Linked DNA regions of Homo sapiens: regions 1 and 2 are each linked to region 3. Evidence: fine-mapped expression QTL. A gene starts in region 3. Each other region holds a variant in brackets. All regions are shown on one strand. Distances are between the middles of the regions. Region 1 overlaps CEP290 (centrosomal protein 290). Region 2 overlaps CEP290 (centrosomal protein 290). Region 3 holds the start of TMTC3 (transmembrane O-mannosyltransferase targeting cadherins 3).

Region 1 (5,712 bases), 46 kb after region 3:
ATATTTATGTTATATCGCCAGCCTTTTTCCTCACAGCTCTATTCTGTTGTACAGAATTACCTACTTTACAATTCCTGTGTTTCAAGGGGATCTCAAATTTAACGTGTCCACAATGAACTCCTGATTTCTGTTTCTCTCCTAGTCATTCTTATTTCAATATATGTTCAGTTACCTAACCAGCTAGTCAAGGCAGATACTTTAGAGTTATTCTGTAGTCATTCTTTTTCCCTACCATTTTTGTTTTCCAAATGTAATTTATGTGTGTCTTCTTCATCCTCGCAGCTCTAACCCTTGTCCAAACCAGCATCATCACTCATCTGGAGTTCCACAATGTCTTTCTGGCTAGTTTCCCTGATTTCTCTATTGACCCCTTTATTCTCCACAGTGCAGCCAGAATGATTGTTTAAAACTTCCTCCTTAAAATCTTTAAATTGTTTTCTTTTATACGTTAAGTTAAATTCCAGTTCCTTGTCTTGGCATGCCATGCCCTGCCTGGTGTGGCCCCTGATGGTCTCTCCAACTTCATGTTTTACTACTATTGACTCTTATTTTTGCTTACTCTGCTTGGGTGCTCCAGTCCTCCAAATCATTTCCTGCTCCAATCATTTCAATCATTTTTTCCTCTCAGATCTTATAGTATTCCAAATGCTTTCTTCCTTTGGAGCATCTGGGTTTACTAATAAATACTTCGTACCTCACAGTTCAGCTTAAATATCAATTATTTGGTGGTTAAGACATCCTTCAACCGCTCTATCTAAATGTTCCTTTCTATTATTCACTGGCTCAGTACTCTGTTTTTATTTTCTTTCTAAATGTCAACTTTTTTTTTTTTGAGTCAGGGTCTCACTGTTGCCCAGGCTCGAGTGCAGTTGCACAATCATAGCTCATTGCAGCCTTGCCCTCCTGGGATCAAGTAATTCTCCCACCTCAGCCTCCAAAATAGCTGGGATTACAGGTATGCATCACCATGCTCAGCTAATTTTTTGTGTTTTTTTGTAGAGATGAGGTCTCACTTTGTTGCCCAGGCTGGTCTCAAACTCCTGGACTCAAGTGATTCTCCCACCTCAGCCTCCCAAAGTGCTGGGGTTACAGGTGTGAGCCACTGCACCTGGTCGATACTGACTTTTTTTTTTTTTTGAGATGGAGTTTTGCTCTGTTGCCCAGGCTAGAGCGCAGTGGTGTGATCTCAGCTCACTGCAACCTCCACCTCCCAGGTTAAAGGGATTCTTCTGCCTCAGTCTCCTGAGTAGCTGGGATTACAGGCAAGTGCCATCATGACTGGCTAATTTTTGTATTTTTAGCACTATGTTTAGTACTGTGTTGGCCAGGCTTGTCTCGAACTCCTGACCTCAAGTGATCCACCCACCTCAGCCTCCCAAAGTGCTGGGATTACAGGTGTGAGCCACCGTAATCGGCCAACATTGACATTTTTAGTAGACTTTTTGTTTGTTTACTTGCTTATTATCTGCTGCCTTCCACACTCTGGCGAAATCCTGCCACCCACCCACACACACATAGGCACTGAATGGGCAGAACTCTGAAGGCCAGAATTTTATATTTCTTTTCACTGTAAACATCATCATCTGTCACTGATGGCACACTAGGATGCTCAGCAACTGTGTGCATGAAGGAAGTAAGCACTAGTTTGTGAAGGCTGCAAAACTCTTGAGTATTCTAAGAGTTTTGGCCAAAATGAATGTACAGCTTTAGTGGCAGAAGCTAATACTCAGAAATTGAGGCCGTATATTGGATAACACAGGATTTGGATGATTATTTTAAAATAATATTTTACATTGTATATATGTGTGTGTGTGTGTGTGTGTGTGTGTGTATGTGTGTGTGTGTGTATATATATATGTATGTATGTGTATTAGTCCGTTCTCATGCTGCTATGAAGAAATACCTGAGACTGGGTAATTTATAAAGGAAAGAGGTTTAATTGACTCACAGTTCCACAGAGCTGGGGAGGCCTCAGAAAACTTAACAGTTATGGCAGAAGGGGAAGCAAACACATTTTTCTTCACATGGTGGCCGGAATTAGAAGAATGTGAGCCGAGCAAAGGGGAAAGCCCCTTATAAAACCATCAGACATCGTGAGAACTTACTATTATGAGAATAGCGTGGGGGAAACCACCCCCACGATTCAATTACCTCCCACCAAATCCCTCCCATGACATATGAGGATTATGGGAACTATGATTCAAGATGAGATTTGGGTAGGGACACAGCCAAACCATATCAGTATGTATATGTATACAAGTATTATATATATATGTATGTGTTTGTATGCATACATGTATTATATATGGAGGAAATTCTAATTTTGTAAAAAACTGGATTGTGAGTTTTAAGGAGATGTTATATAAAGTTAAGACAATGTCATTTTGTGGTATTGGTCTGAATTACAATGTAGTTTCTTAGTGATATTTTTCCTTTATTCAGTGTGAAAACATCTCCTTAAAAGAACAAGTGGAGTCTATAAATAAAGAACTGGAGATTACCAAGGAAAAACTTCACACTATTGAACAAGCCTGGGAACAGGAAACTAAATTAGGTAAGTTTTATGACTCTGATAATATAAAATGATTAACATCTAATAATGAATATTTCTTATTTAAAGTTCCTTTTTTATGCTAGATTAAAAGGAAGTATTTTGACTAAAAAAAGAAAGAACTTTCTGCCTAATAATTTAACTTAGGCAGATGAATAATCCTGTACTTAACCCCACCAAAGTTTAGTTTTCAGTCCTTAAGTTAGATTTGTTTCTAATGAAATCATATATGTTAAAAATTTATGACTAAGTATTAGCTACTTTGAACCGTTTAACAATTAAAACTGATGATATTTTATTAATGGTATTATGAGTTCTTTCACTGAGTGCAAGTTATATTAGTTATATATCACTTGATATTTTTAAATTAAAAGATACCAGGAAACAGCAAAGAAAATGTGAAAAGAAGTTGTATTTCTCATAGTTTTACTACTATATTACTGTATATTTTTGCTCCTATATGCTTACATATTTTATATATTTTAAATTATTATAAACATGGTTTTATACTGTATTTAGATAGTAATATCAAAAATATTTTTATGGCC[G/A]GCGCAGTGGCTCACACCTGTAATTCCAGCACTTGGGAGGCTGAGGAGAGCAGATCCCCTGGGGTCAGGAGTTCGAGACCAGCCTGGCCAACATGGCAAAACCCCATCTCTACTAAAAGTACAAAAATTAGCCAGGCGTGGTGGCAGTTGCCTGTAATTCCATCTACTCAGGAGGCTGAGGCAGGAGAATTGCTTGAACCTAGGAGTCAGAGGTTGCAGTGAGCCAAGATCATACCACAGCACTCCAGCCTAGGCGATAAGAGTGAGACTCCGTCTCAAAAAAAAAAAAAAATTTGTTTTATTCATCATACTTATAAATACTTATACAATAGCCTAATGTGTTTGAGTGATTAAATCACTAGCTTTTTATATTTTTGCTATTGCTTATAGTGCCACAGTGAACATTTTCATGTATATCTAACAGAGATATTACTGTCTCAGAAGGTATTGAAATCTTTGTTGCTCTCATTAGAGTTTTCCATATTAATTTTTCAAACAGTTATATAGTTTATAAGATTTTCATAATTTTATCTCATATATTGTGCTTCATAATTTTCAAATAAATTTGCTGCTTTCGATAATGTATTTTCATGTATTTGTTTCCTAGACGTTAGAGCTATTCAAGGTTTTTATTACTAAATAGAGCTGTTCTCTTAAATTGGTAATGAGATACTTGGTTTAGAGAAGCCTAACACTGGGAAATCTTACATAAGCTACTTTTAGAAATGTAATTTTTAGCTCAATAAGAGATTAAATATGAATTGACTTTTGTGTAGTATTTGCATGGAAGAAGGTACCATTTAAATGAAGACATGAGAGTATTACGTACAATTTTAGTAGGTTCTTTTTATTTTATCATCTTTATTTTTAATAAATGCTGAATTCCCTACAGAAATTCTTTAATTTTTACATATCTTGATCTCTTTCATATATGGATTTATATCACCGAAGTTTTAAGAGTGTTTCCCTATTCCCTGTTGCCCTTATATCTTTGTTTAAAAATGTCACATCATTAGCTTTTTTTCATCTAGGAATTTGTTAGTGTTGGGCTGTTGTGCTCTACCCTCTCTTTAAGAAAACTCCAAACCCAAAAACATACAAGATGGCTAGTCTGCTTCAGCCTTTGTGATGTGCTTTTCTCTTCTAATCAGAGTTTAGCACAATACAGAATGGAGAAGGACTCCTTTATATATTGGTATTTATTGCAGTATTTTTCTACATGGTGCCTAAGGTTACTTGAATGAGTCTTTATTCCATAATGAACTGATTTACTAATGCTTTTAGCACCTGTTAGTGATCCATTATTGTTAGTTACTTGATTACTGCTTGCCACAGCTATTCTAAAATAATACATTTTAAAGATAAATACAGAACATAATGAAGTACTTTTTAAAACTGAGATAGAGACCAATTTTTTTTTCAGGAAATGTATATTACTTTGAGAAAACTCAGTTATAAAACTTGAACTTATGAAGCTGGAAAAACAGGAGGGGGCATTATTGGTATTGTAAAAGGCTGTTTACAAAGTGAGTTGCTGCTTAGTTCCTTTAAGTAATTGGCTACCCTAAACACATCAGTTTTAAGTTGCTGAAAAGCAAAACACTCTACCAAATTTTGTTTTTTTTCTAGACCATGTTTACAAAGCAAAAGTATGTTTTCTTCCCCCCCCCTCAAAAAATGACTAATGACACTCCTATGCGATGCCTTTTTATGGTAAATTGAGGCTTTTAGTTCTCTTTCCATTTAGCCACAGACTTTTGTGTCCAAAGACAAGCTGCGTAACTGCATATATAAGGTTAAGGCATAACTACTAATAAAAGAATGTAAAATATTTGATATTAGGTCTGTACAAAGACCAAATAATACTCATGATTAGACAAGATTATATTTGGTAGAATCTATCCATCATATGGCTTCAGATTTTACTTTTCAGCTTGGCTTTGTGAGACTTTAAAAATCAAGTCATTGCACTTATATTCACAAAGTCACATTGCTTTACTGCATTGCTTCTCATACAGTTTATCTCCTTTCAGTAAAATGTTTACTTGCCATTTTTAAAATTTCTTATATGTGACACTTCTACACTAAGTCCTTTATGTTGTTAGTTCCACAATTCTGTGAGGAATAGGTTTTTTTTTTTAATCATTTGATTGATGAAGAACATTAAGTTCCACAGAGATTAAATGGTACAGGCATCACACAGGCAGGAAGTAACAGAGCTAAGATTAGAGTCCAGGTCTGATGGAATTCAGAAAGCTAATGTGCTTTCCATGGAACTATAATGCTTTCTAATATACAGCATCTAAAATATCTGAGGTAATTTTAATATAAACAGCATGAGATTGACTTAAATATTATTGCATGTAGGTAATGAATCTAGCATGGATAAGGCAAAGAAATCAATAACCAACAGTGACATTGTTTCCATTTCAAAAAAAATAACTATGCTGGAAATGAAGGAATTAAATGAAAGGCAGCGGGCTGAACATTGTCAAAAAATGTATGAACACTTACGGACTTCGTTAAAGCAAATGGAGGAACGTAATTTTGAATTGGAAACCAAATTTGCTGAGGTTTGATATTATAAGTTTTATCATACAATTATAGAATAAA
Region 2 (5,159 bases), 28 kb after region 3:
GCCTCGGCCTCCCAAAGTGCTGGGATTACAGGCGTGAGCCACCGCGCCCGGCCAGGAAAATATTTTTATTGTGTTTTCATTTCTTCCCCCTTTATCTCATTCTTGAACATCTAATCTTATTATTGTTGTTAAATAAGTAGAGGGAAATATTTGCTTATTTAACCTGTTGATTCAAAGATTGATTAATGAGACATTATTTACTCTGAATACAGATTAGGAGTTCAGATAAAGCAGAGCTGCTGCATAGGAGATCATCATTCAATACCCCACAGTCAGATCAGAATGAGACAGAAGAGAATATGACCATAGGATCATTATCAAGAATGTTATCTGAAATTCACCATAGTGTAGAAAGTGGAATGCATCCTTTTGTCCCTTTAACTAGACTTTCTTCATCCATGCAAGTTAAAGAGAATTCAACTCCAGAAACTATTACAATAAGAGAGATTTTTAAAGCACCATGTCTGCAGTCTTCAAGAAATCTAGAATCGTTAGTCAGCACCTTTAGTAGGGAAAGCCATGAAGAAATAAATGACATATGCCTTTTTTCTGATGACTGTATGAAGAAGGTGTCAAGAAGCCATCAAGCACTAGAGAAGACTAGTTTTGTACAAAAAAGCAATTCATCTTTTCATGGCTTATCAACAGCTTCAGACATAATGCAGAAGTTATCACTTAGGCAAAAATCTGCAATATTTTGTCAACAAATTCATGAAAATAGAGCTGACATGGATAAATCACAAGTAGCAACATTAGAAGAAGAACAGGTTCATTCCCAAGTAAAGTATGCTGATATCAATTTGAAAGAAGATATAATAAAAAGTGAAGTACCCTTACAGACAGAGATATTGAAAAATAAGCTTAAGGTTAATCTTCCAGACCCTGTGTCTATTACTGCACAATCAAAATTATCTCAGATAAATTCTCTTGAAAATCTTATAGAACAGTTACGGAGAGAGCTAGTATTTCTTAGATCTCAGGTGAGTTTTTCTCCAAATTATATTTCTGTGGTTGTTCTTTTATGACGTCTCTAACAAAGTTCTGTAACAATTATAGTTAGAATATTTTTGTTTGCACTTTAACATCAGTTATACACATTGTACTTTTTAAAATCTAAAATGCAGTACATTGATATGAACTCATTGACTTGTCTAATTTATTAAATTTTTCTTTAGAATGAAATCATAGCACAGGAATTCTTGATCAAAGAAGCAGAGTGTAGAAATGCAGATATAGAGCTTGAACATCACAGAAGCCAGGCAGAACAGGTAGTGTAAAGGCAGAACATTAAAAGAGATGATTGTGGTACTAAAGACAAAAACCGTTATATCTTTTTGCCTCTTACCATGGATGTTGGGAGAGGGAGAAAGTGGGATTAAGATCACCATCTGCTTTACTGTTTAGATTTTAGTTTATTTTTATGATTGCTGCTATGTCTTCATAGCTCGTTTTTTTTGTTTTGTTTTGTTATACTTAATTGATCAAACTTTTCTTAACTTGAAAATTATAGACTTGTGATATTTTGTTGAAAAAAATCAATTTTATTCTCTCTGCTTTTTTCAGAATGAATTTCTTTCAAGAGAACTAATTGAAAAAGAAAGAGATTTAGAAAGGAGTAGGACAGTGATAGCCAAATTTCAGAATAAATGTAAGTTACAATTATCTTTTACTTTTCTGTTCTTATTTTTCCTATACTTAAAATCATGGGCCTAAAAGGGCGTTAACACATTCTCTGTTTTCTAATCTGCTTTACTCCTAATTACCTCTGTACTGTATATACTTCAGTCTGTCACTATCCAGTTGATTTGCCTTGCTGTTTTCATTGTGAGAGAATGTTACTAATATGAATTTTTTGTGAGAATATATAACTCCTTTTTCTTGTGTGTTCTTCAATCAAAATGAAGTTAGAACACCAAATTTAAAATACTTTAATATAAAGCATAGTTTAAGTTAAGGCAGAAGTATGCCTTATATACGTGTGTATATGCACGTGATATAAATAGGTCTGTCATTTAACTCAACTATTCACGTTGGATTTATAGTTGAATTTTTTTGTATGTTTATTTACATTTGGATTTTTCCAATGATGTCTTTGGTATATGTGAAATATTTGTCATCTGTATAGCATAGTGTAAATTGTGAAAAAGATCTGATCATCCAATGAGAAAACTGTGTAATTACAGTAAAAGAATTAGTTGAAGAAAATAAGCAACTTGAAGAAGGTATGAAAGAAATATTGCAAGCAATTAAGGAAATGCAGAAAG[A/G]TCCTGATGTTAAAGGAGGAGAAACATCTCTAATTATCCCTAGCCTTGAAAGACTAGTTAATGTAAGTTATTTTTTTCATGTTAATGTTTTTCCCCTATCACTTTAGAGAGATTTTCTGCTGTGTACAGATCTCCATAGTTTCTGATGAGATATTTTTAGTCATTTGAATCATTGTTTCCCTGTATGTAAAGTGTAGTTTTTCTTGAGCTGCTTTCAATACTTTTCTTCTACCAATTGGATAATTGTTATTAATCTGTCTTCAAGTTCACTGACATTTTCCTCTTTATCTGTGTTCTTTTGGTTCAAGGGTCAGCTTGAGACCTTGAGGAGTTTTTTACACCGACTTTGGAGCTCGTTTTTGCTGACTCTTTTCTTATTGGGATTTTCCTTTCACTTATCCCATGGCTTTGGGCTGTATCCTGTGGTTTTCTAGATGAGAAAGATGATAGATCTCTGCAATTGCACCCTGCCCTATGACTAAATCTTTAAAAATGGCAAAGTCAATCTTTGCTGGTCCTGTCTTCCGTATTTGAGGGGTTTTTTCCCAAAATCTGCTTGCTTTTGTTCATTTTCTAGAACATCTAGGTAGTTTTTTTTCATTCATTTTTTATTTATGGGAGTGTAGATCTCTTAGGAACTTATGCCATCAGAAGTATTATGAAATGGCTTTATTCTAAATGTTTAAAGATTTACTCATTGCTACAAGAAAGATTTAGCCATCACTAATATTCTATATATATTTACCATATAGGGACTTGAGAATTTCACAGGATTCAGTATCTGTATATAAACTTGAATAATATACACATTTTAGATTGTTAATATTTAAGTATATGTCATTTATGTTATCTGAACATATTTAGCGTACATTGTCATATTATTTCCCAAATTTGTGCTTGATTTCAAATGGGAAAAAAATTCTTATTATTTATTGAATTGTTTTTTTAAAAAAATCATGATTAATCAGTAATTGGATACTTTTTAAAATAACACTATAATTGTTAACAGAGAATGAGAGTGATACTGGTATGTTAAAAACTTCCTGAGGCAAGAAAATAATTTGATTCCCATTATATCTTTCTCATACTGACTTTCCTTCTCTGATTGGTGATTTTGTTTTGCCTCTGCCACTTTGAATGTCTAAAATGATTCTTTATGCTTTTTTTATGTGAACATCTTTTGTCCGTGATGATGCCCACTACTGATACTGTGTCCCAGATCAAACTTAATTTTCCAAGGGCAGCTCTACTTAGTGACCAAATGAAAACACAGTGAATAGCCCAAGAAATCCTAACTTCTATTTATGTTGACAATCTCTGGACCTTCCTGAAGCCACTGTTTGCATAGACTTCATTTACTTTTATCCGGGATTGTCATTGTTTTTTCAGATTCATAGGCCCTATCTGAAATTCACAAATCACCTAGCAATACTTCTCTAAGAAATCTTCAGAATCCATGACAATTTAGACCAGACAATGCTGGATTATGCACTTCAGTTCACTTTTTGTTACTACAAGGTATTTTTCAGTGCCCCCAACAGCTATCTTAACTCATTCTCATTTTACCAAAGTCCATGTAGACACGGCACTATTCCTCAATGAGACAACTAACTAGACCACCTTGTTGTCAGTCAGAGTACCTTCCTCTACCTACTTTTATCTTCCTTATATCCTCTTTGAGTTAGTATAAGTTATTACTCTGCATGACCTGCTCTAATCTCCTTCAGGGGAAGGCTTTTACAAATCTACTACCTAGAGTTAAACCCCAGATCACCTTCCTGAGTAGGAGATTGCATTTGGTTCTATTCATTTTACCTTATTTGGCTTCTACCTTCACTTTTTAAGACTTACTTTGCCTTTAACAGTTTTTTCCATACAGTTCATCTAAAGTCCAAATATATTTATTAGATGTGTGCATTGTGTGTATATACTTAGATATGCCACTGTTGGAGATTTCGGGCCAGTGATGCCACTCTGATAATATTTTAATATTTGACATATTATTTTTGCTTACTCATTATTCTTAGATAATATCATGTTATGATACCTTGCCTTTATTTTTATTTATGCTTCAACTATGTGGAGAGGAAGCACTGAAAAATTCACTTAATTGAATGTTGTATTGATCAATTGTTCAATATTGTATTCCATTCCTTTGCGCATGCTTTGAATGCAGGTGCTATATAATTTCAGAGAAAAATACCTCATTTTGACTGTACAAAAACCCCATGTAGGGAGCAGAGCTCACATTGTTTTCCCCTTTTAGAGACAAGAAAACTAAGATACAGAGAATTTAAGTCACTTGCCCAGCTGTTAAGTGACTGATTAAAATTTGAACCCTGGTCATCTTATTCCCGTCTGGTTGTTTTTCTAGTCTACCAGTCTATTAAGATTAGCTAGGTGTTTTTTAATTGTTTTAATGAAGTAATTACTATGCTTGGTAATGTAAATGAAAGTTTTATAGATTCATAAATAAGAATTTGAATTGGCATACTTTATTATCATGCTTGGCAATGAAAATAGGAAAATGCTTAAATGTCCATTTTATTTAAAGACAGACTGTTTTTTACTATGATTTTACTGTTTTTCTCCACATTTCTAATATATAATATAAATTTGCTAGGCTATAGAATCAAAGAATGCAGAAGGAATCTTTGATGCGAGTCTGCATTTGAAAGCCCAAGTTGATCAGCTTACCGGAAGAAATGAAGAATTAAGACAGGAGCTCAGGGAATCTCGGAAAGAGGCTATAAATTATTCACAGCAGTTGGCAAAAGCTAATTTAAAGGTGAGAATTTTATTAAATAAAAGAAAATGCTAAACATAAGAATGTAGATTTAATAGGAAATTTTTAATTTTTTAAAAAGAATGCTTTATGAGAAAATGCCCCTTGAA
Region 3 (5,715 bases):
TCAGCAAAAAGGAACTAGAAGTAACATCCAAGGAATATAAATTCATTGCTACAGAGAACAAAGGTAAGCAATAATAAAAGGTGAGGCCTTCTTGTGAAGTGATTTTGGTCAGATAAAACTGTTCACAAAAGCCTAGGGCAGAAAGAAGGCAGGTCCAGACAAGTGTTCTTATAACAAGGCCACTTACAACATTGTCACATAAGTCCCATTTCTTGATGAAAACTGACAGGTGCAGAAAATCTGACGAAAAATAATAGTTTTGCCAATTTTCCTCAAAAATATACAGTGAGTTATTGAACTAGAACCTGAGTTAAATTTCCTGACTCACACTTAGGTACAGACGACAATGCATAAAAACTTAGTTGACTTGTTCAAGCCAGAGCTGACTTGTTCACTGCTGTATCCCCAGTGCCTAGCACAGGAAACAGGATAAAAAATACTGTTAGAATGAGTTAAAGAATAAAATTTAGGTAAGATTTTGCTTTTAGTTACAATTGTCACTGAGATCTAGGTTACAATCTTAGCTTCATCAATTATTACTTAACTTCTATGAACTTGTTCTCACTTCTGAAAAATTAGAATAAAATTTACCATTAGAGACCAGGCACCTTGAGTTTATGAATGTGAGCAAGAGGGTGGTGGCAGAAGGGTAGAAAAGAGTAATACAGACAAACGAAACTTGTAAGTGAATACATAAAAATAAGTTATAACGAATGAAAAAAAAAACAGAAGAAAAGGTGTTAGAGAAAACAGACTTCTATTATGAAAACAAACACGCAGTAGTCAGCATAGTGTATGACATAACATGTGCTCAGTAACTATTAAATTTCATTCCTACCATTGTCAGAGGTATTTGAATCACAACAACTCCATCTTGAATAGGGGCTGGGTAAAATAAGGGTGAGACCTACTGGGCTGCATTCTCAGGATGTCTGTCAGTCATTCTAAGTCACAGGATGAGATAGGAGGTGGGCACAAGATACTGATCATAAAGACTTTGCTGATAAAACAGCATGCAGTAAAGAAGCCAGCCAAATCCCACCAAATCCAAGATGGCGAGAAAGGTGGGACGTCTGCTCGTTCTCACTGCTCATTATACACTAATTATAATGCATTAGCATCCTAAAAGACACTCCCACCAGTGCTATGACAGTTTACAGATGCCATGGCAATGTGAAGAAGTTACTCTATATAGTCTAAAAAGGGGAGGAACACTCAGATCTAGGAATGGCCTACCCTCTTCCCAGAAAACTCATGAATAACCCACCCCTTGTTTAGCATATAATCAAGAAATAACTATAACAATCCTTAGTCTACCACCTCCAATGGGGGTGTATGCACCTCCAATTCTTTCTTGGCGAGATCCAGGAGCCCTCTCCTGGGGTCCAGATCAGAACACCTTTCCAGAAACACCATCCCATGTTAAATTATGAATTAAGAACACTGAACATGAAGAATGTTTAATTCAAATTATTGAGTAAACACTTACAAAATTAAAATATAACATTTAATAAAAATAGCAAGATTGAGGAACAAGCACTTCACAAATATTGGTTTCCCAGAATGTCTGAGGAGGTGTATAGAAGTTAAGAATATGTCCTCCAGCCAGAGAGATCTGTGTTCAATCACACTATTTAAGTTACTTAGCTTCTCCAAGCCTCAGTTTCTTAACTCAGATGGAAAATGAGGACAATGTAAGCACCTATTTCACTGGATTGTAAGGAAGAATAAACAAGATAATGAATAGTATTTGGCATATAATCTTTCAGAAAAGTAGTAAAATTGTCATTCCTATAAATCTAACTAATGTCTTTAAAATTCATCTCACAAAATCAGTATCTTTTTATTTTGTACTGAGCTACTTATTTTACCCAAATTGGGGGTTTAAAAAGAAACTCATTACTTATTTTCGAAAGGAAAATTTACTGTCAAGTACAGTAATTTTTTTTTTAAAGCAGCGTTTAAAAAAAAAAAAAGACAAAGCACTGGTCCAGATAGTTGGAAATGTCATTTAGATTTAAGTCTACAGCTTCTTAGGAAAGTTAGGTAGAGATGTATCATACTCCAGCATGATTGTGAGCAGACGAGCAGGATGAGCAAAACTTGCACGAGTAAGAGTGGTAAACACCAGAGAAGGCGCTTTCATGGAAGGGCACCCTAGGTAACCAAGCAAGTGGCAACAATAGTACAGGTGAGTCCTTGGATCCCTTCTCTCTCCACCCCCGGCAGTGGTCCGGACAAGTACTAACCTCTCCTCTCTAGAGCCTTGACTTTATACTAGCTCCACAACCATCAAGCCCCACGATCCGCGAAAGGAATGGTGCTACAGGTAAGGCGGGCGGGGTCGGGATGCCGAGACCTCTTGTCAATTCTTCGCTCGCCCCCAAACGAGGATCACGGCTGCGCGGCTCTCACTCTAACTATCAAGACAGATTCTGATACTAAACAAGGCTAAAACTTTTTGTTTTTTCCTTCTTACAGAAGGCACTACCCTGGACGCCGCTTGCAAACGCCTGAAGAGAAGGCAGGGTGTTCCCACTTTTTCAGAATGGGACCAGGCCCTACGGCCCCAATAGCAGAAGCTTCTCTAACCCAGGACTGCTCCCCTCAATTCCTCCCAATATGCTGACCGACAGCTCGACCTCACCTGGGGGCGGTTCCGCCAGGGGATGGCTTAGGAAAACCTCAGGAAGAGCAGCCCAGCGAGTGACGCCACTGAAACCACAGTCATGGTCTACCTCGTTCAGGCCACCAGTTTGCAGGCGCCTGAGCCGCTGCTCCTCCCGCCTCTCGGTCCTTCCCCGCCGCCCCGGTACCGTCGCAGTCTTACGCGTTGCATGCCGGGAGCGCCTTACCTCCTCTTCTCAGGGACTTCAGTTCCCAGCATGCAGAAGCCTCAGGCAGAACTGCACTCTGGGATTTGAAGTCCTCGTTCCACGCCTTCTCATCATCCTGAACACCGAGCTCTGGGACTCCGGCGGAGAATCTAAACGTAAAGCATCACCCACGGTCGTGAACTGTAGGCTCTCCTGGCATCCGGGATCTTATTCTGGCCTTGGCGGAGTTGGGGATGGTGTCGCCTAGCAGCCGCTGCCGCTTTGGCTTGCTCGGGACCATTTGGCTGGACCCAGAGTCCGCGTGGAACCGCGATAGGGATCTGTCAGGGCCCGCGGCCGGGTCCAGCTTGGTGGTTGCGGTAGTGAGAGGCCTCCGCTGGTTGCCAGGCTTGGTCTAGGTGGGTGGATCCTTGTAAGCAGGATTAGCGAGTCACTCCACGCTCAGGTTCTTTAGCCTGAGGGCCCGTGTGCCACAGCATAGCTACCCCGCCCTTCCAGCCTCGGGTCCCTAATACTGCCTTGCTTCGGTTCCAGTTTCCGCCGCACAACTTCACTCATTCCAAATGTTAATTTCTGCGTTTTTTTTCAGCCCCAATTCTGTTTCTCCAAATCAGGGATGATTGTCGGCCTTCCACAGACCCTCGCGCTTGCCAGGATTAGGGTGTTCGCGCGCATTGTGGGTAGGGGTGTGGAGGAAGGGATCCAGAAATCTTAAGTATTAACTTAGATTAGTGTTAGCAAGGAAGCCGTCACATTTTATTTAGCCGGGACACTCTGACAGTTTGTGCCGACTGCTATTTTTGATCAAGGCTATTTTGCCCACTTGTCTATTTTGTGGCCCAATTGTCTGTTTTGCTAACATCAGAAAGTTATAATGAAATAATCTGCAAAAAATGTAAGGTGCTAGAAAACCAATAATACTGTGTACCTTGAAAATGCTAATATACACCTGTTTTGTTACAGAGGTGGAGCACAGTGAAAGAATTCAAGATGCCACCTAATATAAACTGGAAAGAAATAATGAAAGTTGACCCAGATGACCTGCCCCGTCAAGAAGAACTGGCAGATAATTTATTGATTTCCTTATCCAAGGTGCTTAATTGGTCAATAATAATAGATATATACATTAACTTATGATTAATTTATTAATAAAATATGAATTTATTTTTTTCAGGGACAACTATAATTGTCACAATCTGGAAGTGTTCTTATATTTTGCTTGAAGGTTATAAAATATAAAACAGTTGCTTTTCTGTTTACTTAGGTGGAAGTAAATGAGCTAAAAAGTGAAAAGCAAGAAAATGTGATACACCTTTTCAGAATTACTCAGTCACTAATGAAGGTTTGTATGTAGTAGGTTTTAACTATAGGTTTGGCTATTAGTGGAACTATAAAAATCTGTTCTTATATAAGGTAATCTTTGTGAAAATACCTGGTAATATCTACATCACCACTAAAAAATGCAATATATTTAAATGTGAATTAAGTATTTTAGTGTATAAAACATTGCTAGTTTCTACTTAAAGTTTCTAAAAGGGTGTGTAGGGGAAATAGAATGAGTATGTTGAAAAGTAACATAAGGAAATATATCTTGAGGTCCAAATGACAAATGCAGACAATGACTGCTATAGGGATTTGTTAAGAGGGGAAATGATTTAAGAGATGTCAGAAGACTTCACAAAGGATCAATACTGAGGAGTAGTGTTAGATAAGTGGAAGGCAATGCAGTGGTAAGATAGTAAGGGAATTCTAGAGCTGTTGGTTACCATAAATAAATACTGAGAACAGGAAATATGTTTATTCTTTATATTTGAGGAAACAAGGTGCAGCAAGTTTGTAGCAGACTGTAGAGAAAACAAATCTTGGGTAAGTACTTTGAGATAGGTTGTTGAGGGCCTTAAAGGTGTATTTTATGCTATCAGCAATTGAGAAGGCAGTAAAGGTTTTCGAAACACAATTGATAGGTACAAAAATACACCTTAAGAAGGCAAAACTGAGTATATTATGTAGGACAAACTGAAGGAAATTGGAGCTTTGTAGACATCACATTATAGCGGAGTTTAAACCTGAAATTATGGATTAGAATAATAGCAATTGGAACAGAAAAAAAGTAGTGGAAAGACATTACAAAGGGAGATGTTGCATTACTGGATATAAGACTTGAGGACTTGAGGTAAAAAGGAGAATCAAAAATGTTTCATGCTATTAAAAATCTAGAAATTGTAGTCTTAAGTAAGAAAATTGCCTGGCATGGTGGCTCACGTCTGTAATCCCAGCACTTTGGGAGGCCAAGGCAGGAGGATTGCTTGAGCCTGGGAGTTCAAGACTAGCCTGGATAATATAGTGAGTCCTTGCCTGTACGAAAAAATTTGCCGAGCATGATGGCACACCAAGCATGATGGCACGCCAAGCATGATGGCATGCACCTGTAGTCCCAGCTACTCAGGAGACTGAGATGGGAAGATTGCTTGAGCCCAGGAGGCAGGAGGTTGCAGTGAGCTGAGATTGTGCCACTGCACTCCAGCCTGGGTGACAAAGTGAGGCCCTATCTCAAAAGCAAAAAAAACAAAAACAAAAACCAAAAACTATTTATTCAGCAAATATTTACTGAACGTCTCCATGTGCCAGCCATTGCTGGCACTAAGGATCATAACAAATAAAACAGAATTTTTATTTTCAGTGCTTACATTCCAGTATAAAGGCATATTGAAATAACCTTTTTTTAATGTTTAGATGAAAGCTCAAGAAGTGGAGCTGGCTTTGGAAGAAGTAGAAAAAGCTGGAGAAGAACAAGCAAAATTTGGTAAGCACCTTGGAAAAAGTTTATTATGGTATTAAATAATGAATTCCATTTGTTCATTAAACTGTAGAAAATTAA

What was found. PIP is the estimated chance that this variant, and not a neighbour inherited with it, causes the effect. A credible set is the group of variants that fine-mapping cannot tell apart.
Region 1: its variant is the best candidate, but not a certain one, in a credible set for the expression of TMTC3 in visceral fat (GTEx, PIP 0.72).
Region 2: its variant is the best candidate, but not a certain one, in a credible set for the expression of TMTC3 in thyroid (GTEx, PIP 0.62).

Annotation. Positions count from the first base shown.
Region 1 is chr12:88,093,730-88,099,441 of GRCh38, reverse strand. CEP290 (centrosomal protein 290) reads left to right here. Exons shown (of 54, transcript NM_025114.4): 27 at 2,443-2,554; 28 at 5,467-5,672. Among named protein-coding and RNA genes, the nearest start is that of CEP290, 46 kb to the left of the region's middle. The variant G/A (reference allele first, on the strand shown) is at 3,100.
Region 2 is chr12:88,111,587-88,116,745 of GRCh38, reverse strand. It overlaps CEP290 (centrosomal protein 290), which reads left to right. Exons shown (of 54, transcript NM_025114.4): 19 at 1,564-1,648; 20 at 2,184-2,326; 21 at 4,888-5,052. Among named protein-coding and RNA genes, the nearest start is that of CEP290, 28 kb to the left of the region's middle. The variant A/G (reference allele first, on the strand shown) is at 2,265.
Region 3 is chr12:88,139,420-88,145,134 of GRCh38, reverse strand. TMTC3 (transmembrane O-mannosyltransferase targeting cadherins 3) reads right to left here and starts at 2,828. Exons shown (of 14, transcript NM_181783.4): 1 at 2,648-2,828. It overlaps CEP290 (centrosomal protein 290), which reads left to right and starts at 3,047. Exons shown (of 54, transcript NM_025114.4): 1 at 3,047-3,235; 2 at 3,801-3,929; 3 at 4,102-4,179; 4 at 5,571-5,640. The coding sequence starts at 3,828. RefSeq lists enhancers at 2,458-2,961, 2,768-3,207.